2 separate regions of the Homo sapiens genome follow, and region 2 is linked to region 1. The links come from fine-mapping of genetic effects on gene expression. A gene starts in region 1. The other region holds a variant in brackets. All regions are shown on one strand. Distances are between the middles of the regions. Region 1 holds the start of CCDC93 (CCC complex scaffolding subunit CCDC93). Region 2 overlaps DDX18 (DEAD-box helicase 18).

What was found.
Region 2: its variant is fine-mapped to the expression of CCDC93 in whole blood (TOPMed, PIP above 0.99).

The regions. Positions count from the first base shown.
Region 1 is chr2:118,010,572-118,021,880 of GRCh38, forward strand. CCDC93 (CCC complex scaffolding subunit CCDC93) reads right to left here and starts at 3,499. Exons shown (of 24, transcript NM_019044.5): 1 at 3,383-3,499. The coding sequence starts at 3,424. It also overlaps the pseudogene RN7SL111P. RefSeq lists silencers at 2,987-3,036, 3,507-3,706.
Region 2 is chr2:117,815,108-117,826,416 of GRCh38, forward strand. It overlaps DDX18 (DEAD-box helicase 18), which reads left to right. Exons shown (of 14, transcript NM_006773.4): 2 at 2,337-2,621; 3 at 4,542-4,685; 4 at 6,054-6,189; 5 at 6,543-6,643; 6 at 6,755-6,954; 7 at 7,040-7,154; 8 at 9,462-9,601; 9 at 9,833-9,994; 10 at 10,340-10,492; 11 at 11,162-11,275. Among named protein-coding and RNA genes, the nearest start is that of DDX18, 6.1 kb to the left of the region's middle. RefSeq lists an enhancer at 1-441 and silencers at 5,477-5,526, 5,537-5,606. The variant A/G (reference allele first, on the strand shown) is at 6,402.

The DNA of each region.
Region 1 (11,309 bases):
TTGCAAATGCTTCTTCATCTTTCTTCCTTTAATTTGTTTTGCTCATCCCTTCCTAAATCACAGCTTTCATGTTATCCCTCTTTAGCTCACCCTCCCAGCCCTTATCAACAATGCACCACACACACTGCCTGTAAGATAAACTCCAGATGTCTGGTTTCACATTCAGATCTTTGGCCACCAAACTATCTTTTCAGGTTCATCCTTTAACTACCCCAAAAACAATCAAGACAAGGCCATGGCTATATTCTCTAACCACTGAGAAATCACTTTCAAATTCCAGCTCCCATGCAACACCATCCCTCACAAGTCTATCCTGAAATGGCCACTCTCCTCAGCATTTCTGTACATATAACTAAGTATCAACTATATACTGTACATATAACTAAGTATCAACCTCTTCAAAGTGAGATATCTAGTGTTATACACATGCTTGTCTTTGCAACTGGACTACTGATTGATTAACGAGAGGACTATATATTATATACTTGGGTTTACTCCTCTGAATCCAAACAACATTAAGCTCCAAGGACACACTTATTAAATAAAGAATGATCTACTAATGCTTACATAAAGTAAGTGAACCTAAACCAGTCATGTATTAATAAAATGTTTCAGTGATCACATCCCTGACAATGGAAAGTTTATTTTGATGTATAAACTGCCAGGAAAGGGAGTATACATATTAAAATATAGTTAATACAGAATTATTAAAGTGACTGATAATCCCCTGCAATAGAGTAGGAGTGGCGTGGGGGAGGTGACAGCACTGAGCTACATCCGTCTCTGAAATGACCCTGGTCCAGTCCATTAAGGATCCTGAAGATCAGCATTCACTAGTTCCTAGTGGACATAAAAATTTTCTTAAGTAATATAAATAATTCACACCTTCTCTCCCTTCTGCAAAAAATCTGGGATGGTTGAGAAACGTCTACAAGTGAAAACACTCTAAGAAAAGAGAAGCTAAAGAGTAGTTGTAGTTCAAGTCAGCAGAAAAAGAAAATGAGATAATATAAGTACTTTCTTAAAACTTCTGGGGTGTAAAACAGGAACACTTCATTTGTTCAATCATTTATTATGAAAACATGAGAAGAAGACAAAAAAAACCAAAAAAAAATAGGATCATCACTGCCTCAACACCTATCTAATGGACACCCACTGGCCACCCCACCACAGATGCAGGGCCCAGGCTTCCATCCACTCACCCCTAGCATGGAGAAGTTTACTTTTGCAATATAACTTGTGAAGTAATTTTGGCACAAGACACTAAATGGGAATGTATGACTCCAAATTCACTTAGCAGATTAACACTGAAATCAAATGGAAAAGGGCCACTGTCTGATCTGCTGGGAATGAAAGACCCTCTCTTGAAGCAATAAAAATCCACCAGGCTGGTTAATACATCCAGTTGTTGAAGCTAAATTTCTGACAAAGACAAACAACAATGAGCTCTTACACAAAGCCCAATAAACTTTCAATTTCCGTCCACTATAGTTGTTGTAAGCTGGAAGGCAGGCCAAGTCTAGCTATCTTTGTAAAGGGTTAAAAAGAATGAATTCGGGCAGGGCAGTGGCTCACATCTGCAATCCCAGCTACTGGGAAGCCTGAGGCATAAGAATTGCTTGAACCTGGGAGGCAGAGGTTGCAATGAACCGAGCTCACGCCATTGCACTCCAGCCTCGGTGACAGAGTGAGACTCTGTCTCAAAAAAAAAAAAAAGAATGAATTTAATGAATTAACTGGTCTAGTGACATCCTAATAACACAGACTATCCATATTTATATTTACTAGCTTCTGAACTAAATGATGATAAGTTATTGCTTGACCTGGTGAGTGTGGCCTCTTAGCAGTCAGTGAAAGTTTAAACGAAGGACATACAGCAGCAGGTTGCTCTTCATTAATTAATTTATTTATTTTCCCCCCAGAAAGACCTCCACTGATAGTACTGTGGAATATTGGGTTGGACGGATTTAAAGTAGAACGTGGGAGACCAGACAGAAGTCTACAGCAAAAGGCCAGGCAAAAACTTGATGAGAGCCTAGAATACAGAAGTGGCAAAAAAGAAAACTTCAAATGTCACAGTACAAATCCTATTGTTCACTATCCTGGGTCCCATCCCAGGCAACGTGCATGTAAGATTTTACCTAATACAGGGGTTCTGACAACATTATGCTTGTCAGGTTTTCTTAAGACAACAAAATGGACTTGCATTCGGGGAGCACACACTGACAAACAAATCTGTCCTTTCAGACTATATATATTCCCAGCTTCTGGACACAGAACACAGTGATCCCTCAATTAGTGGATACTTGTGATATGAAAGAACTGAGGATTTGGGAGGAATGCAGAGGAGTAACATTGGTCACTGGCAGGTAAGTGTGAAGGGACGACTCACCACGTCAAGCAAGCAGTCACCCTGCCCAATGCCTGCTCCAGAACCTTAGGAAAAAGGCAGAGGTGCGGCGTGGCTTCCATTTCTCTCCAGAATCCAGTAAACTAGACTAGCCTTTGAGTAAAATCAACTGAAAGGGACGACAGATGCAAACTACCTATGAGATGCTAAGTGGTATTTGCAGCCAAAAGAAAATGAATACACTTTCCCTGTATTCCCAGCAAACGTGGAAATCCGCAAACCACTCATGACCCCCTCCCTAGCACTAAGTGAGTACTTAACAAACACCTTTGGAAAAGAACCCCGCCCTCTTCTGGAGAAGCCGCAGCCTTTCCGCCCAGAGCCGGGTCCCCCGCCACACAGCACCCCTGGAGTGCGTCCCACCCCGAACGCCCCGGCGCGCTGACCCAGCGGGACACCTCCCTGGTGCGCGCAAGTCTCCCAAACTTCCTCCCGCCGCCCCGGCCCGGGTCCACGCAAGGAGGGTGGCATTCCCTCCCGACAGCAAGGCGGGTGGGGCGGGCCGCCGGGACTCTGCGGGGTGGCGGTAGACGTCCCAAGGTCACCACCCGAGCCCGAACCGCCTCGGAGAGCGGTCTCGTGACTCCAGCGCCCAGCAGCCTCGGCCCTCGGGGCTAGCCCTGCGGCGCGGGGTGGGGGAGCCCGTCCCGGACAGGGAGAAAGGTGGGAGCCCAGGACCCCGCGGCGCGTGGGGCTGCGTCAGAGCAGGTGTCGGGCTAGGAAGGCCACCTGCGCCCCAAGAGACCCGGGAGCGGCTTAAGTTTGTCCTCACCCGCCCGCCGCCCCCTGCCCATGCAGGGGTACCTGCTCCCCGCCTCCAAGAAGAGGGTCGGCGCTTCCCTGAGGTGGATACGCCTGAGGAAGGGGGCGGGGCGCCCCTAACGCACCCAGGGCCCGCTCAGCCCGCCGCCCCGCGGCTCGGCCCTCTCTTCAGGAACCCCGACGTGTCAGGGAAGGAGGAGGCGTTCTTACCTCCGGGAGACCCTGGCCCTCCGGCCCCCTGGGCAACCCCATGATCCGACCGGGCTGTCGTAAGGCGAGAGCGAAGCCCGCCAAGCGTCCGGAGGAAGCTGTCCCTGCCGCGGAGCTGCTACCGGGGTGGAGTACAAAGCGGAAACTCCCTCTGCCGCCGCCGCCGCCGCCGCCGCCGCCTGCCCGAAGCGCCGCAGCCGGGCAGAGCATGCGCGCTGGGGCCGGAGCGCGGCGCCACTGCGCCTGCGCCACAGCAGCCCGGGGAGAGGTGGGCTGGGCTGCAGGTCCTGGCGTTGTGCTGGATCATCGCGCCCGTACTCTGAAGTTTTCTCCGTGGCGCTCTTTGAGAGGGGTTCCTCCTGCATCTTGAGAATATTTTGCATTTCGGCTCCCTTCTCTTCTCGCTGCCATCGGATGCCCCAAATAGGTCCTGTCCCCTCGGTGAATCAGACTTCGGAAACCGCCTCGCTTCAGGGTCAGAGTCCAAGTACAGATGAGCTTGAGGATTCTGAATGCACGCCCGGCTCTAGACCTTACAGACACACGCTTGGACAGACTTCTCCATATACGACCCAGGAACGGACCCCTTGAGAAGGGATTCTTCAAGCCCGCTGCCCTCTCCAGCGTCCTGGCCAGTGGCATCGCGTTCCCAGGAAACCTCGCTTCAGATATTGCCCACCACCCCGCCCTATTCACGGTTCCTGGGTCTTCCTGGAGGAATGACATCTCAGAGAATGCGGACTCCTATGTTCATGTCATTTGAGCCGCCGCGTCCCTTATTTGATGTACCCCTTGTTGGTCCCGGAGGATGGCAACTAGACAAAAGGTCACAGGCCCCCACACCCGCTCCATAACGGCTTCTTGGCTTTTTGTTTCTTTTAAGCAATGAGGAAAGAGATGACTTTCGTGAAAACTTTTGCTGGAGAAGAGATCCTTCCCTCTGTATATGTGTGTGGGATGGGAAGTGTCAGACTCAGACCTTTAGTTCCTTGAGATCAAAAAGGTTTCGTGTTTGCTTTCGTCTCTTCTTTGCATCCCTAGCGTCTTTAAAAGAGTAGGCAGGCGCGGTGGCACATGCCTGTAATCCCAGCACTTTGGGGGTCGAGGCGGGAGTATCACTTGAACCTAGGAGTTGGAGACCAACCTGGGCAACATAGTGAGACCTCCATCTCTACAAAAAATAAGAAAATTAGCCCGGTGCCAGTGGTCCCAGCTAGCCGGTAGGCTGAGGTGGGAGAATTGCTTGAGCCAGGAAGGTTGAGGTTGCAGTGAGCTATGATAACACCACTGCACTCCTGCTTGGGTGACAGAGCAAGACCCTGTCTAAAAACTATATATATATACGTGTATATATATATATGTGTGTATATATATATACGTGTATATATGTGTGTATATATATACGTGTATATATATATGATGTTTTCTATTTTATTTTATTTTTGCACCTTTTGTACTCCTCCTGGAGTTCATCCTGACAGACAGAGGTTTGTCTGGAGCCAGAGCTCACAAATAGTTGGAACTGCCCTAAGGATGCCATTTTGTTCTTAAATATAACTAGCAAATATTACTCAAAGCTGTGCACGATCCCCAAACCCTGGTCCCCAATAATTTGAATAATCTGAATATGCAAGTTAAGGTATTGAGATGGGAACCCTCCTGTGTGGTATATCTTGCTCTTATCCTTTGTGAAGCCAATAAACTTCAATTTCTACTCTCATAACTTCCCAAATGTGTTGTTTTTGTAGTTTTAAAACTGTCATTCACTGAAATGGTATAGGTTGATGGGGAATGGAGAGTGATAATAATTTGTGGCCACTGTTGAGTGACCAGACAGGTACTGATGCCTAGGAACAGGTAGTAAGATCTCACATAGCAGGCAAGCCTAAACAGCTGTATATAATAGCAGCCTGGAGAATAACAGGACTCAGGCCACACCCTGAGTTCCCTGTTATAATGCTTTTGCAATGTTTTAAATAAGCATGAGTAGCTAACTTCCTCAGTAAGAAACTGTCCTTCCCGAGCGCGGTGGCTCATGTCTGTAATCCCAGCACTTTGAGAGGCCGAGGCGGGTGGATCACCTGAGATTGGGAGTTCGAGACCAGCCTGACCAACATGGAGAAATGCCGTCTCTACTAAAAATACAAAATTAGCCGGGCGTGGCAGCGCATGCCTGTAATCCCAGCTACTTGGTAGGCTGAGGCAGGAGAATCACTTGAACTGGGAAGGCGGAGGTTGCGGTGAGCTGAGATTGTGCCACTGCACTCCAGCCTGGGCAACAAGAGTGAAACTCTGTCTAAAAAAAAAAAAAGAAACTGTCCTATGTTACAACAGGTGTAGAGTGACAGTAACAGAGTTGAGGGGCATGGGGCATGCTTAAAAAAAAAAATCTCAGCAAAACAGCCATAATATCGTCAAGAAAGTTTGAACAGGGCTAGGTGGCACCTGCTTATGTCCCAGCAACTCGGGAGGCTGAGGCAGGAAAATCGCTTGAGCCCAGGAGTTCTGGGCTTTAGTAAGCTATGCCAATCAGAGATCTGCACTAAGTTTGGTATCAATACAGTGACCTCCAGGGAGCAAGGTTGCCTAAGGAGTGGTGAACTGGCCCAGGTCAGAAACAGAGCAGGTTAAAACTTCTGTGCTGATCAGTAGTGGGATCATGACCATGAATAGCCACTGCACTTAAGCCTGGGCAATATAGCAAGACACTGTCTCTTAAAAAAGAAAAAGAAAGTTTAAGCAGCCCATATTTGAGAGCAGAAACCCTTCACAGTCTTGAAGAAGACCTTTAACAGCCAATGCAGACAAGGAGGCTTGTGAGGAATCTCTCAGATCAATCCATCTCTCTCCCTTTCCCTTCACTCCAGGCACCCTCACAAATTGTGTCTCCCAAGTGTGATATCTGAGGACTAGAAATCAGTCATTCTGTCTCTCTTCTGTACACTGAGTACAGAGTTGTGTGATGTTCCTCTTTGGAGCCTCACAAATACTTTCCAGTTCGTGGGTAAAGAGGTACCATAGTGATATAGTTTGGATATTTGTCCCACCCAGATCTCATGTCAAAATGTAATAGCCAGTGTTGGAGGTGGGGCCTGGTGGGAGGTGATTGGCTCGTTGGGGTGGATTTTTTGTGAATGGTTTAGCAACATCCTCTTGGTGCTGTCTTCCTGACACTGAGTCACTCATCACGAGATCTGGCTGTTTAAAAGTGTGGCACTTATCCTCTCTAGCTCTTGCTTTCACCATGTGACATGCCTGCTCTCCTTTCACCTTCCACCATGATTGTAATCTTCCTAAAGCCTCCCCAGAAGCCAAGCAGATGCCGGCGCCATGCTTTCTGTAAAGCCTGTAGAACTGTGAGTTAATTAAACCTCTTCTTTATAAATTACCCAGTCTCAGGTATTTCTTTATAGCAATGGGAGAATGGCCTAATACACATAGTAAAGAGCTTCCTGTTAGGCTTAGCTTTGTTCTGGAGGAAGTTTTCTTTCTTTTTTTTCTTTTTTTTTTTTTTTGAGACGGAGTCTCGCTCTGTCACCCAGGCTGGAGTGCAGTGGTGCGATCTCGGCTCACTGCAAGCTCCGCCTCCCGGGTTCACGCCATTCTCCTGCCTCAGCCTCCCGAGTAGCTGGGACTACAGGCGCCCGCCACCACGCCCGGCTAATTTTTTGTATTTCTACTAGAGGCGGGGTTTCACTGTGTTAGCCAGGATGGTCTCGATCTCCTGACCTCGTGATCCGCCCACCTCGGCCTTCCAAAGTGCTAGGATTCCAGGCGTGAGCCACCGCTCCCAGCCGGAAGTTTTCTATAAAGCTTTAATTATTCTGTCTTCAGGCTTCTCTCATTCCTTCTACATGTAGTGCAACAATGGGTGTTCAGTAAAGTAGAGTGACACAGCGAGGTCACACAGCACATTAGAGGGAGTGCTAGAACCAGAGCCCCAAATTTCTCATTCCCCATGTTCTTTTGCTCACCCATCCAACCATCCATCCATCCATCCATCCATCCAACAAATATTGCTGAGTTTCTTCTATGTCAGTAGCTCTCAAACTTGGCTGCACATTGGAATCACCTGGATTCCACCCTTAGCAATCCTGATTTAATTGGGCTAGGGAGAGGCATGAATATTGAATTTTTTGCCTTGGAACATATTGTTTTATATACAACACAGTAGTGAATAGTGACTTCATTATGGATTTGTTTCTTTATAGATCACAGTGGCATATAAAATTCAAAATCCATAAACAAAGAGCTCTTAGGTTAAATGAGTTCTTCCTAAAAATTCTTAATGGCATGCTGGTCTATTCTCAAGCGGTACAATTTTATAATGCACCATCCTATATTTAGCATGTCACATTTCTACAGTAACATAATGGAGGCACAGGCAGTGCAAGCAGATTTAAACCCCTTCTACTTCTGGACTGAAGGTTAGAAAAACACAGCGTGTACACACACACACTTGGATGAGTTCTTCCAATACGTTTTCCCCCAAAAATGATAGTTTTATCAAAGAATTTCAATAACTTTCATAGTTTGTACAACCACACTCTATTAGCTACATTAAAAAGGATTCAACAAGGGGCCAACTACACAGTAGTAAATAAACATGTTTGAGAATATCTGCTACATTCTCTATCTCCTGGAGAAAATAATATTTACATTTTTTTGTAAAGTGATTTAATAACTAAACAATTCTTTCTTTTGGTCGGGGGTAGGTAATGGGATTTTCAAAGCTTCACAGGTGATTCCAATAAGCAGTCAATTTGAGAAGAGTTTCTCTGTGCCAGAAACTGTTCCTGATGCTGCAGATACTGCAGTCAACACACCAAACAAGATAATTACTGACAGAAATTAAACATGTAATTAATAAGATAATATCAGGTAGAAATAGGTGCTATTAAAGGGGGGAAAAACAGTGTAGTTTGGGTGTGGTGGCTCACACCTGTAATCCCAGCACTTTGGGAGGCTGAGGCAGGCAGATTGCTTGAGCCCAGGAGTTCAAGACCAGCCTGGGAAACATGGCAAAAACCTGTCTCTACAATTAACAACAACAACAACAAAAAAAACAAAAACCAAAAAACAAGCAATGACAACTACAACAACAACAATTAAAAAAAACCAGTGTAATGCAATAAAGAATAGCTAGAGTCAGAGTCACTTTTAGATGAAGGGGCCAGGATTAGGCTTTGCAGTGCCATTTGAGAGAGACCTAAATCCCAAAAGGACACCATAGAAGGGCCTCAGGGGAAAGCATTGCTGGCAGAAGGAGCATCTGAGGTGTTCTGGACAGTTTCCCATTACCCTTCCAGTCCTGCTCTCAGTCCTCTCCTTGTTTGTTTCAGCACAAGGCTGACCAGTAAGGACTTCAGCAGCAGGGCCTGGGGTATGAGGATCTGGGATGTGGGTCTTGGGATGAAGGGGTGTCTGGGATGTGAGTCCTGGGGTTTGGGGGAACTGAGTTATAGGGACTAGGAAGTAAGATTTCAATAGTAATTTGACAAAATATATTAAGAACTTAAAAATTTTCTTTGATATGATACTTCCACTTTCAGGGCTTATATCAGATCTTCATCACAATGTTACTGATGAGAAAAAAAACCTATAAACCATCTAAATAGCCCATAATAAGGGACTGGTTAGGTACATTATAGTCTGTCCATTTGATATAGTGAAAATGTGTGCTTCAGCAGGCCATGAACAAAAACAGTGAGAGATGAGGCTGTATAAATGTTAACAATGTCTGCCTGCCAAAAAATTATTACAACATTTAAAAGGCAAACTGGAAAAATATTTGTTACCTGTGACAAGAATTCTTCCAAATGAGGAAGAAACATTTAACAGAAAAATGAGCATAAGACTTGAATAGAGAATTTCTAAAAGAAATTGTCACTAAATGTCTGAAAAAAAAAAAAAAACTCAGCCTTATTCTAAAAGGTTAAAATGTGGTATCTTTTTGCATGGAAAAAATAATTAATGCTTAAAAGACACTAAACAAATGCCAGTAGCATTCCCTAGTCAGTAAGGTTTTACAACAGTTCTTGGACGGCAGTTTGGCAAAGTTAATTTTTCACCAAATATTCATTCTGTGCCTCTTCTGTGCCAGGTACAGAGAAGGGCTCTCAATGTGGGTGAGGGTAGAGATTCAGGACCAAGGAGCAGTCTGGAGTTTTCACAGAGCATGGGAGATTGTCTTAGTCTTTTTAGGCTGCTATAACAAAATACTATAGAGTGGCTTATAAACTACAAAAATTTTATTTTCCTCACTTCTGGAGGCTGGGAAGTCCAAGGTCAAGGCATCGCCAAATATAATGTCTGGCGAGGTCCCATTTCTTATGGATGTACAGCTTCTCATTGTCACCTTACACGGTAGAAGGGTGAGGAGCCTCTGTAAGGCCTCTTTTATAAGAGCACAATCCTATTCATTATGGTAGAGCCCTAATCACCTCCCATCTTCTAATACTATCACCTTGTGGGAGTCAGGATTTCAACATATAGATTTTGGGGTAACCCAAACATTCCCACCACAGCAGAGGCATTACCAACATTTAGCACCCAGTTGTTAAAGACATCAAACTTCCTGCATTGATTTTAGGTCATAAAAATTTCTTTGACCAGAGAAATGTAAGCAGATAGGAGATTGTGCCAGTTCTGGGTGAGGTGTCAAGAACCATTCTGTGTTCCCTCACTCTCCTAAGCTCAAGCCATTCACCAGGAGACCGCATACTCAGGCAACCATACCTCCCTCCACCTGGGCCCTCAAGCAAGAAACACCAGTGAGAGACCAGAGCAGACCTGAGCCCCAAGCCCAGCCGAGTACCAAGCCCACGAGTGAGATATCAGTGTTGGTTGTGACCAATGAGGTTTGGGGGTTATTTGTTAAGCATCATTATCATGCATAACCTTATAAACTGTACAAAGAATTGTTCCCCCAGATGCCATAAGCATGCCCAACCCTCTGTCTGAAAAATGCTGGATACAGAAAAGAAAGAGAACAGAGCTCTGGGATGAGCATGCACAGTCAACCAATCATCACAGCACAGATGACATGACGCATGTTGAAATAAGTGCCTTTAATAATGAGTTGAAAAGTGGGATGAAAAAGAGGAACAGGAGTAACAGTTTTGAGTGGGAAGTTAATGAAAGTTTCTCCAGGGATACAACATGTAAGACTTGAGATGAAAGAGGGTTAGACCTGGAGCGGGATAAAGGTTTCCAACAGAGAGGGGGCCATGAATAGGGAGGAGCTTGCACCTGAGGGGTTGGAGCAGGAGCACTAACTAGGTGCCAACTGGATGGTCTGGCCCCATCAGGACCTTGGGGACCACCAGGAGGGGATTGGATTTTACCTAAGTGCAATGAGAGCCATCAAAGGGAATTTTGTTGGTTTGTTTAAATCAAAATTTGTTTTGTAAACATATTAGTTTTACCACTGGTGTGATTTAGCCTTTGATCTATAGAAATGGAATTTGAGTTTCAAATGTCTCCAGTGGCAGGACTGCCCACAAAGAATCCCTACTACCATTCACATTTTGGGGAGGGGGTTAATAGCACCAACTCAAGTACTATCCTTACACTGTCTAGAAATGAAAGGAAACAATTGACTCAGGAATTTCACTTCTAAATAGCCTGCATTTACATAACAGTATCCTTGGAATTATAGTTCTATCAAGCTTTCATGTGAAAACTAAATGAGAGAAAATGAAAATTACTTTAGAAGAGAGACCAAAAAATACTGTTTTCTGGATTAATCAGAGACTTCCTGTTAATAAATAGCAATAAGAATACAACTTTCATTATCCTGAAATCAAATAAGATGAAAAGAATTATACTAAGATTCACACATATATTTGTGTGGATATATATATGGGAAAAACCTAAGCATGTTTCCCTACTCTCTACTCACAATCACAGAGTACTTCTGACACCA
Region 2 (11,309 bases), 200 kb before region 1:
CTCCCCGTTCACTTCTAGGCTTACGACTAACCCTGCCTTTTGCATTTCCACCTTAGCTTTTGGTTCCCTCACCACCTGCAAGTCGCACCTCACCTCATCCCTCATTTCCGGTTATGCTGCATGAAACGTCTCATTTCCACCCACTTTTCACATCTATTTAATTCCCGTATTTCTTTCCCCAAAAGCCCGTCTGGCTGTTTCCACAGAGCTTCTTTGATACTATTGCCTTCCTCTACCCACTTCCACACGTTCTCGTAGCACTTTCTCACCAGAGCTTCTACGTATTTGTGTCCCGCACAGTGACCTAAATGAAAAGGATTTTATCTGAATGTCACCTTTCTTACCTACCTCATTTGCAGTCCCAGTGTCCTGACAGTGGGGCCACAGATCTTGAAGTAATTGTGTTAACCTGTTGTCCAGGTTAAGATACAAACTCCCCGAGGGAAAGTTTGGAGGCACAGTGCCTTGCCCCAGTTGGTTTTCAACAGACATTAATTGAAAAAAAATTCTGCAGGAGGCAATAGGTTTGTGAATTTTAGGAATATGTTTTGAAATACTCTTGTATTTCTAATTCCTATAGAATAATACTACAGCATTACTACTTTTCAGCGCATATGTAAGTAAATTTGAACAAAAGATGGTGTTTTATCTTTTTCAGTAAACAAACAGGGAACCTTTGGTAAGGACATTCTCAGGTACAGTCATGCATCGCATAACAGGAGGGGGGATACATTGTGAGAAATGTGTCATTAGGGGCTTTTGTCGTTTTGCGAACTTTATCTAGTTACACAAACCTAAATCTACTACACACCCAGGCTACATGATATAGCCTGTTGCTCGTAAGCTGTCATCCTGTACAGCATGTTACTGTACTATACTCAGAGAATTGTAACACAATGGTAAGTGTATGTATGGCTAAATATATCTAAACATAGAAAAGGTACAGTAAAAAGACTATGACATGAGAGATTTAGAAAATGGTACCTCTGTATACAGTACTTACCATGAATGGAGTTTGCAGGACTGGAAGTTACCCTGAGCGAGTCAGTGAGCGGTGAGTGAATGTGAAGGCCTAGAACATTACTGTACACTATAGACTTTATAAACACTGTACACTTGGGCTACACTGTTGAGTTTTTTAATACTTTTATTCTTAAATTAACCTTAGCCTGCTGTAACTTTTACATTATAAACTTGTTAAATTTTAACCTTTTGACTTTAATAACACTTAGCTTACAACACAAGCACATTGTACATACAGCTGTACAAAAAGTTTCCTTTTGTCCTTATTCTATGTGATTTTTATTTTATTTTTTTTTCTTTTTAAGCTTTTTGTTAAAAATGTAAAGACACAGACACATTCAGTTTCACTGTCTTCCGCTTCCACATCTTGTCCCACTGGAAGATCTTCAGGGGCAACAATAGGCATGGAGCTGTCATCTCCTATGATAACAGTGCCTTCTAAAATACCTCTCTCCCTGAGGCTCTTTTACAGTCGACTCATTTTTTTTTAATAAGTAAAAGGAGTAAACTCTAAAATGATGATCAAAAGTATAGTAAACACATAAACAAGTAACATAGTTTATTATCACGTATTATGTATTGTACATAATTATGTGTGCTGTACTTTATACGACTGGCATTACAGTAGATTTGTTTATACTAGCATCACTACAAACATGAGTAATATGTTGCACTACGACATTGCAGTTACTGATGGCACTAGGTGATAGGAATTTTTTAGCTCCGTTATAATCTTATGGAGCCACTGTATATGTTGTCCTTAATTCACAGAAATGTCATTGTGCACGCATTACTGTATTTGCATATGATAAATATTGGAGCAAATAAGTGGTCTTATCAACTGAATTTTCAACTCACTGCAGTCTAGAAGAGTTGGGGTTGAATGTTTTGAAGTGGTATGAAAAATAGTACTTGTGTGAATGAGTTGTAAATGTCTTTTTCAATATATCAGTTAATCATATGTTTATCAAATACTTATGTTTATTCTGTAACTGCCATTATCTGACCTCATCTGTTTAAATATTTGACCTCATTGAAGTTTTCCTGTCCTAGACTCCTTAAAGTCAGATGTACGGTCTTTTGCAGTTAAGAAATCAATATAGCTTTCCCTTTTCCAGTATTTTTTCTTTAAGATAACTTACTTTCCCTATAAGGGAACACCATAAAACTATAAGTTGTTTTAATTACATGAAAGAGAAGAAAATCTAAATAATTTGTGTCAGGAAGCCATGGAAGTTCTCATTTGGGATTTCAGTGTTTCTAAGTAAACTTCTCCTTCTTTGTCACAGTATATGTTCTGTTTATTTAAACAGGGGCCTCAAATCTGACCCTATCGGAAACTCAAAATGGAGATGTATCTGAAGAAACAATGGGAAGTAGAAAGGTTAAAAAATCAAAACAAAAGCCCATGAATGTGGGCTTATCAGAAACTCAAAATGGAGGCATGTCTCAAGAAGCAGTGGGAAATATAAAAGTTACAAAGTCTCCCCAGAAATCCACTGTATTAACCAATGGAGAAGCAGCAATGCAGTCTTCCAATTCAGAATCAAAAAAGAAAAAGAAGAAAAAGAGAAAAATGGTGAATGATGCTGAGCCTGGTAGGTATTTATTATCTTTGAACTTCAGCCATTTAGTTTTTCACAGACGGTTATTGTTCCTCTTTCTATTACTATTGTGTGCACATGACATGAGAATTCCCTGTACTCACCAGTATGTTAGAGATTAGCCTGGTAGCTAATGGAAACATTTTATTGGCAGAAGCGGGGAGTCCATTTCAACTTTTCTCAAAATATTGAGGAATATATTTTTAATTTCACTAACCTTGAAGAAAACCTCTCTCAGAAAAGACTCTCCTTAGAATTCTAGAAATTTTCTCTTCTTTTTAAGTTACCTTTTTTCCTGCTTGATTCTTCCCATTTTCCTTCCATAAATTCCTCCCTTTGAAAGGAATATTAGTTACAAAGTATATAAAGTAGGAAACTTCTGAATAAATGGAACATTAATTTCCAAGTGCTAAGAATGGCAGGAGGAAAAGGAAGGAATGTTTTTTGAAGATGATGGAATTTCAGTAAGCTCGGATGAAAGAATGGACATTATAATTGAGATTTGTATAAGCAGAGATATCAAGGTAGGATAAGATAGGGGTCAGCAAACTATCCCTCCTTCTACCTGTTTTTGTAAATAAAGTTTTACTGGGTCATAGCAATGCCTATTTGGTTGTGTTTATGGCAACAGAGATCATATGACCTGCAAAGCCTAAACTATTTACTATCTGGCCCTTTGCGGAAAGTTTGCCAGCCCCTGAGTTGGAACATCCTATTCATGTATTTTACCTGAAATAAGGGTTTTATTTAGAAAGGGACTTTGAACTTTTCCAAACATGCATTACTGTCTTCATGATGCCTACACACAGAAGTCATTGTAATCCTGTTCTAAAATTATTGCCTTCACAATTCTTGTTTTGAGTATGCCCCAGGAAGTGGTATTATTTCTGCTCCCAAGCATTGAATCACAATGCTGGGCGTTTTAACCTTATGGGTTTTTTGTTTGTTTGTTTGTTTGTTTGTTTTATTATGAGATGGGGTCTCACTGTGTTGTCCAAGCTGGTCTTGAACTCCTGGGCTCAAGTGATCCTCCCACCTCGGCTTCCCAAAGTGCTGGGATTACAGGCAGAAGCCACCACACCCAACCACCTTATGGGTACATTTTAGGAACTATTCCAGGGAAAACAAAATAAGCCATGGAGACCAGCTGAAGATATCTGTGGCTTTTGAACATGTAGGTCCTACAAAGTTGACTCTTTCCTGGAAGGGTGGCCGTCAGGTACAGGGAGGAGACCAGTACTGAGCTACAGAGAGTCCTGGGTTGTGGTCTAAGTTCTTTTCAAACATCACTAATTGCCATATAGTTTTATATAAACACAGCATGTGGTTAATCCATTTGACCCAGAGTCGAACATTGAAAAGAGAAGTGAGAGGTAGGACTGAAAAGGTAGTTGGGGCCACATGAAAGTTGTGAATGTAGAAATGAGGGTGGGAAGAAGCCCTGCCTTTCCTCCCACCCTCATCCCTGATAGCCAAGGCACAGTCCAGTGTATGTCAGCCAGGCAAGTGGGTTGTTGCCCTTCCTTTACAGTCTATCTCTAGTAACATGAAGAGCCTTTGATAGTGATTGGCGTGGGAAGAAAAATGACTACTTATAATGAGTTTTTAAGGATTATGTTAATCAGGTATGCTTCCTTTCCCCTCAGTGGAGTATGTGAAACTTATAATTGGTATGTTTATACTGTTTAGTTGAACAAAAGCCTAAAAGGTTTTGTCACCAAGTCTGTCTGTACCCTGGGTTTTTAAATACAACCACTCATTTTTCACCAAACAGAATTCTTAACAAATTAATACAGCATATACTTAGCTTTTGAAAATATACGTCTTTATATCAGAGATCTTCTGTTTGTTGATCTCATTTGGAATTCTATTTTAAGGAAAAATTTTTTCGGATTTTGTCTTTTAAAACCAAAGATACGAAAAAAGCAAAAACTGAAAACAAAGGGAAATCTGAAGAAGAAAGTGCCGAGACTACTAAAGAAACAGAAAATAATGTGGAGAAGCCAGATAATGATGAAGATGAGAGTGAGGTGCCCAGTCTGCCCCTGGGACTGACAGGTAACGTCCAGGAAGTTTTCTAGAGGTAACTTCTTTAAAATGTGCCTCTCTTAGAGGATTATAGGTTTGAAGGTTCAGTTGTGACTTTCAGTTTACCTGAAAAAAGTAACTATCAACAAGAAACTTTTTTTATATCTTTCTGCTGCTTTTTCTCTTTATCTTCTATTTTGTGGTGTTTTAGTTCTTTTTGTTCCCTGTTTTTTTCCTTTTGTTCATTCCTGACACCAAATATTTTATATGCACACTAGCAGCTTCTAGGATTCCTTGGTTTGTCCTTTTCTGAGTCTCATTCTATGTTGTAATAGGAAAATGATTGGCCCTGTACGAGGTTAACCTCCTTTGGCCTTTGTTCCTTTATAAAGTTGAGTTTAGGCTAGAATTCACTGCTCCTAACCAGATATGTCTAGGAGTTACTTGAGTTGTTTATTTGGTTTGGGTTGGTTGGTTTGTTAAAATGTTGAGGCCCAACCCTAGACCTGCTTAATCCAAATTGCAAACGTTTTGGTAGTAGCTCTCGAGCAGGGAAATTCGCCCCCCGAGTAAGAAGAGTAACTCTTCCTGGTTTGCCCAGAACTTTAACAGTTTTAGCACTGAAAGTTCTGAATCCCAAGAATCTCCTCTGTCCCTAGCCTACTGAGAAGATTGGTCATCCTAAGCCTAGGAGACATTTTTGGTTCTCAGAGCTAGGAGCAGTCTGCTGGGATCTGGTGAGTAGAGGTCAGAAACACTGCATAATATCTTATAAGGCACAGGATAGTGTTTCACAGCAAAGAATTATTCAGCCCAGATGTCAGCAATGCCAAGGTCAAGAGTGATTGGTTTACACCCTGGGCATGTGGAGTATGGGGAACCCCCAGGTGATTTTGATGCCTTCTGCTGAACCACCACTGTATTACTTGATACGTAGGCTCAGCCTAACATTCTGTGGCTGTATCTGACTCTTCTGTGTCTTGTTGGAGTGAGATTAACAGGTTTTTTTTTTATTATTGACTTCACACTCAGTTTTTATTAATGCTCAATGTTTTCACTTTTATATCAGATTTCTTAAACATTTCATTTATCTCTGGACTCTCATTATTTTCCTTGTTTTGGTATTTTTATTTTATATAAATTCCTTGGTTATACCTCCTCTCTACCCCTTGTTTTGTTATAGTATGGTCTCTGGACTATAACTCACACAGCCGTTAACAGTGGAGAAACTTGAAAGATATAGGGTCTTTTTCTTGATATTATCACATATGAATAATTAAGGTTTAGCCTTTTCTTACTGCGGGAAGCTTTTCTAAGCAAAATAGATTTAGGCAACTGTAGCAATACTTTTTTAAAAAAAAAGATAAATTTGCTAATGATAAATTGTCTTCTGTTTAGGAGCTTTTGAGGATACTTCGTTTGCTTCTCTATGTAATCTTGTCAATGAAAACACTCTGAAGGCAATAAAAGAAATGGGTTTTACAAACATGACTGAAATTCAGCATAAAAGTATCAGACCACTTCTGGAAGGCAGGTATGATTAACATTGAAGCTTAGATATTGGCATCTATTTTTAGAACTAGTAGATGATAAAGAACATACCAGTATATTCTGTTGATTTTGTACTATATGTTGGGTCATGTATCCAGCATACATTAAAGGCTTTAAGTTAATTACTGATGTTTGAAGGAAAGTGTTCGAAAGGTGTTCTGCTTCTGTTGTAGCACAGTTCTGACTTATGATTTC[A/G]GTATATAACCCAGGTGATCAATTTCAGCACTGTAGACGTTTCTTGTTCATGTTCTAGCCGTAGTGCCTAAGGTGTGTGTATGTAGTACGTCGTAAATGAGTAGGCTAAATGTCTTTCTCCTTTCCCTTTTTAATATTTAGGGATCTTCTAGCAGCTGCAAAAACAGGCAGTGGTAAAACCCTGGCTTTTCTCATCCCTGCAGTTGAACTCATTGTTAAGTTAAGGTTCATGCCCAGGAATGGTAAGCGTTCATCTGCTTGTTTCTGCCATTATTTCACTAGAGGTTTATTGTAGCTGTTACGGACTCAGTGGTGACAGCCACATTTAGACTTCTACCATATATCATTTTTAGGAACAGGAGTCCTTATTCTCTCACCTACTAGAGAACTAGCCATGCAAACCTTTGGTGTTCTTAAGGAGCTGATGACTCACCACGTGCATACCTATGGCTTGATAATGGGTGGCAGTAACAGATCTGCTGAAGCACAGAAACTTGGTAATGGGATCAACATCATTGTGGCCACACCAGGCCGTCTGCTGGACCATATGCAGGTAAGAGATGTAGTGCTTGTCTCATTGTCTTGTATGAAACATAAACTGACAACTAATGGTTGTTCTTTGTCCTTTGTTTTGTTAGAATACCCCAGGATTTATGTATAAAAACCTGCAGTGTCTGGTTATTGATGAAGCTGATCGTATCTTGGATGTGGGGTTTGAAGAGGAATTAAAGCAAATTATTAAACTTTTGCCAAGTAAGTAGGTAGCATCTGCATTTGGTTTGCAAAGTATCTGTTGGAGGTAGATAAGAGTTGTTCCTATAGAAAAACTGTACTAATGCCAGAACTTTACCATAGCCAAGTGAGGTAGTTGTGCCAATTAACCCGAAAGGTAATTTGGAATACAAGCATCAAATGTATTATAACTTGATATAATAGTTTTGCTGTTTTAGAAGTTATAAGGCACGTTAAGCAGTCTTCACATAGGTCCTGTCCTCCACCTCTTGCCCATTCTTACCTCATCTAACATCCCCCAAGAAGCCGCAGATTTTTTGCCTTACTTGTACATACCTTGGTTATAGTACTTGCAACATTATGAACTGGTTATAACTAAGACCATGGTTTCCTTCATTATATAATTTATTTTTAAAAGCTTTGTCAAAGTATAATTATATCTACCCATTTATAATGTACAATTTGATGTTCTTTGATTTGTTTACCACTGTGACATCATCGCTGCAATCAAGAAAATGAACATGTCCATCACAGTCAAAGGTTTCCTCCTGCCCCTTTTCAATTTCTCCCTCCCACCCCTCCTTACACGTATACCTTGTCCCCAGGTGAGTATTGATCTGTTTTCTGCTGCTAGATTAGGTTGCATTTTCTGGAAATAAAGTTGCTGTGAACAGTCATCTACAACTCTTTGTAGAGGCATATATCTCCTTTTCTCTTAAGTAAACCTAGGAGTGTCCTAGTTGGTATATGTTTAGTGTATGTTTAACTTTTTAAAAAACTGCCAGATGTTTTCCAAAGCGGCTGTACCATTTAACATTCCTATGAGCAGTGTATGAAAGTTCCAGTTCCTCCTATTAAGTCTTGACCATCAGGTAATGTTAGCCCCAAGTTTGTTCTCTTTTAAAGTTGTGGTATTCTTGTCCTTTGCTTTTCTATATAAATTTTAGAATTGGTTTGTCAGTTTCTCCCCCTTCCCTCCAAAAAAGTCTCAGATCTTGACTGAGATTTTATTGAATAGAGATTATTGGAGGAAGACAGTATTGAGTCATGTAACCCATAATAAGGTATATCTCCATGTATTCGATATTTTCTCTATCATATTTAGGGGGGTTCGGGATACAGGTTTATTCACATCTTTTGTCAGATTTATCTCTGAGTGTTTCATTAAAATTTCAAGTTCCAATTGCTCGTTGCTTTAATATATACATATATACACACACACATATACACACATATATATGCACACACAGTTGAATTTTATATTGATCTTGTATCTAGCAAGACAGTTAATCCTGTACCGAATGATTATTCAGTATGACTTTCCAGATGACTGTAGCCTTTTGGATTTTCTATATAGGCAATCATGTGCAGATAAAGACAGTTTCACCTCTTTATTTAATTTTTTTTTCCTGCCTGATTGCCCTGGCCAGAACCTCCAGTATGGTGCTGAATAGAAGTGGTGAGAGCAGACATCCTTATCTTGGTTCTGATCTTAGGGGAAAGCATTCAGTCTTTTACCATTAACTACATATGAAGTTAGCTGCAGGTTTTATATAGATGCCTTTTATCAGATTGAGGAAGATCCCTTCTGTTCCTAGTTTGCTGAGGATTTTTAATCAGAAATAGATGGTCAAATGTTTTTTTTCTGTCTGCTGAAATAATCATGTTTTTTCTTTAGTTAACATAGTGAATTGTATTGGTTGATTTTTCAAATGTTGAACCAACCTGCATTTCTAGAATAAACCTGATCCATTTCTAGAATAAACATGAGCCATTATCCTTTTTATATATTGCTGAATTCACTTTACTAAAATTCTATTTCAAATTTTGTATATGTGCTCACGAATTGTATTGGTCCATAGTTTTCTTGTCATGTCATGTCAGGTTTTTGTATAGTGTAATGACTGACTTCGAAGAATGAGTTGACATGTAAGCCCTCTTTTTAATTTATTGGAGAGTTTGTGAATAATTGATGTTTTTTTCTTAAATGTTCAGTAGAATTCACCAATGGAATCCATTTGGGCCTGGAATTTTCTTTACATGAAGGTTATAACTAAAATTTCTTTAGTAGATATAAGGCTATTTAAAGTTTTCCTATTTTCTTCAGTTGTTTGTCTTCAAAGGAGTTTGTCCATTTCATCTAAGTCCTCAAATTTATAGACCTAGTGTTTCATGATATACCCTTTTTACCTTTTGTAATATTTGTAGATTCTGTAGAAACATCATATCTCCCATTTCTGATATCTCTACCTAGAATATTTGTAGTTGTGAGGCAATTGTAAAGATTCCCTAAAAGATTGGGGTTATTTTTATATGTATCTGTTTCAGCACGTAGACAGACTATGCTCTTTTCTGCCACCCAAACTCGAAAAGTTGAAGACCTGGCAAGGATTTCTCTGAAAAAGGAGCCATTGTATGTTGGCGTTGATGATGATAAAGCGAATGCAACAGTGGATGGTCTTGAACAGGTACTTTTTATCAATAACTGAAAACTGTAGGGATCTTACTTGGTGTTTTTATGTAATTGTTGGAAGGATCATTCAGAAAGCAAATGGGTTAATGAACTTTTAAAATGCTGTAGGTGAGGCATGACAGTTTACACACTGTGTTTATCAGTGCTCTTGATGAAATTACACAAGTTAGGAAATGGAAAATGTCCACTTGGTTCATTTGTATCTGTCTGCTTAAACGCTTTCTAGGGATATGTTGTTTGTCCTTCTGAAAAGAGATTCCTTCTGCTCTTTACATTCCTTAAGAAGAACCGAAAGAAGAAGCTTATGGTCTTCTTTTCATCTTGTATGTCTGTGAAATACCACTATGAGTTGCTGAACTACATTGATTTGCCCGTCTTGGCCATTCATGTAAGTGATGATGATGAGCTCATTGAAAACAGGGTATGCTTATTAAATCCTATAGATTGTAGGATTGGAGGTATTGCCCTCTCCTGGAAACATTGTTCTGAGTAGTTTGATCACCACTAGATGATGGATCCTGTGTGGGGGAGCGCTGCTGGGTGTGGAGGGGTATGAGGACTTTCGAAGAGTGCAAGACACCATCCTCCTTGAGGGGCTTGCGGAACAGTTGGGGAAATAGGACATAGGCCAAGGGATGAGCTCGAAATAGGGTAACAGTTCCACAATTTGGGGGTTCTACTGCTAGTCTTCCTCAAGATTCCAGCTCTAATGGATGTTTTTATTTAATTCTAGGGAAAGCAAAAGCAAAATAAGCGTACAACCACATTCTTCCAGTTCTGCAATGCAGATTCGGGAACACTATTGTGTACGGATGTGGCAGCGAGAGGACTAGACATTCCTGAAGTCGACTGGATTGTTCAGTATGACCCTCCGGATGACCCTAAGGTAACTGGCATCTTTGGAATATCTTCAGAATGACTCTGCATTAAAAGTTCACTTATTCTCCCAGTTCCCTGACGGAAACTGCATTCCACATTCAAGGTAAAGATCCCTACTATACAGTGACTGCAGTATTTCTCTGGTATTGAAAAGTACTTAAGGCTTTTCAGGGCTCAAACGGGCTGTGCCAGAGGATTGAAAAGGATCAGTGGGACTTAAGTTATGAAAATGAGATCCTTGGAATGATCTCTTAAGAACAGCAGATGCCTGAAGGAAATAAAATTGCTTAAGGAAGTAGATAAACTTCTGTAGTATATGTGGTAGAATAAGCTTCATTGAGAAGTATTTTCAACAAACACTGGATTAAAGCCGTTTTGATGATGAAGCACACATAATACTCATTTTATTAGATCGCTGTTAATGCAAACATCATGTCCAGCCTTTTTTTTTTTTTTTTTTTTTTTTTTTTGGGCCTCAATCATTGGCCTATTGGGGGTGATGTGCACAGAGCGATTGCTGGCCCAGCTTTGTGGGGGTGTGGTGAAGGTGTGTGTGGCCCAGCACCGTGGGACTACACCATCTCAGTACAGACATGCACATACTCAGGATGCAGATACGCAAATGGGCTCATGTGGAAGTCACTGCGTTAACTCAGATTTTCTTTCTCCACCAAAGGAATATATTCATCGTGTGGGTAGAACAGCCAGAGGCCTAAATGGGAGAGGGCATGCCTTGCTCATTTTGCGCCCAGAAGAATTGGGTTTTCTTCGCTACTTGAAACAATCCAAGGTAAAGATCTGTACTTGGAGAAAGATTTCTCTTG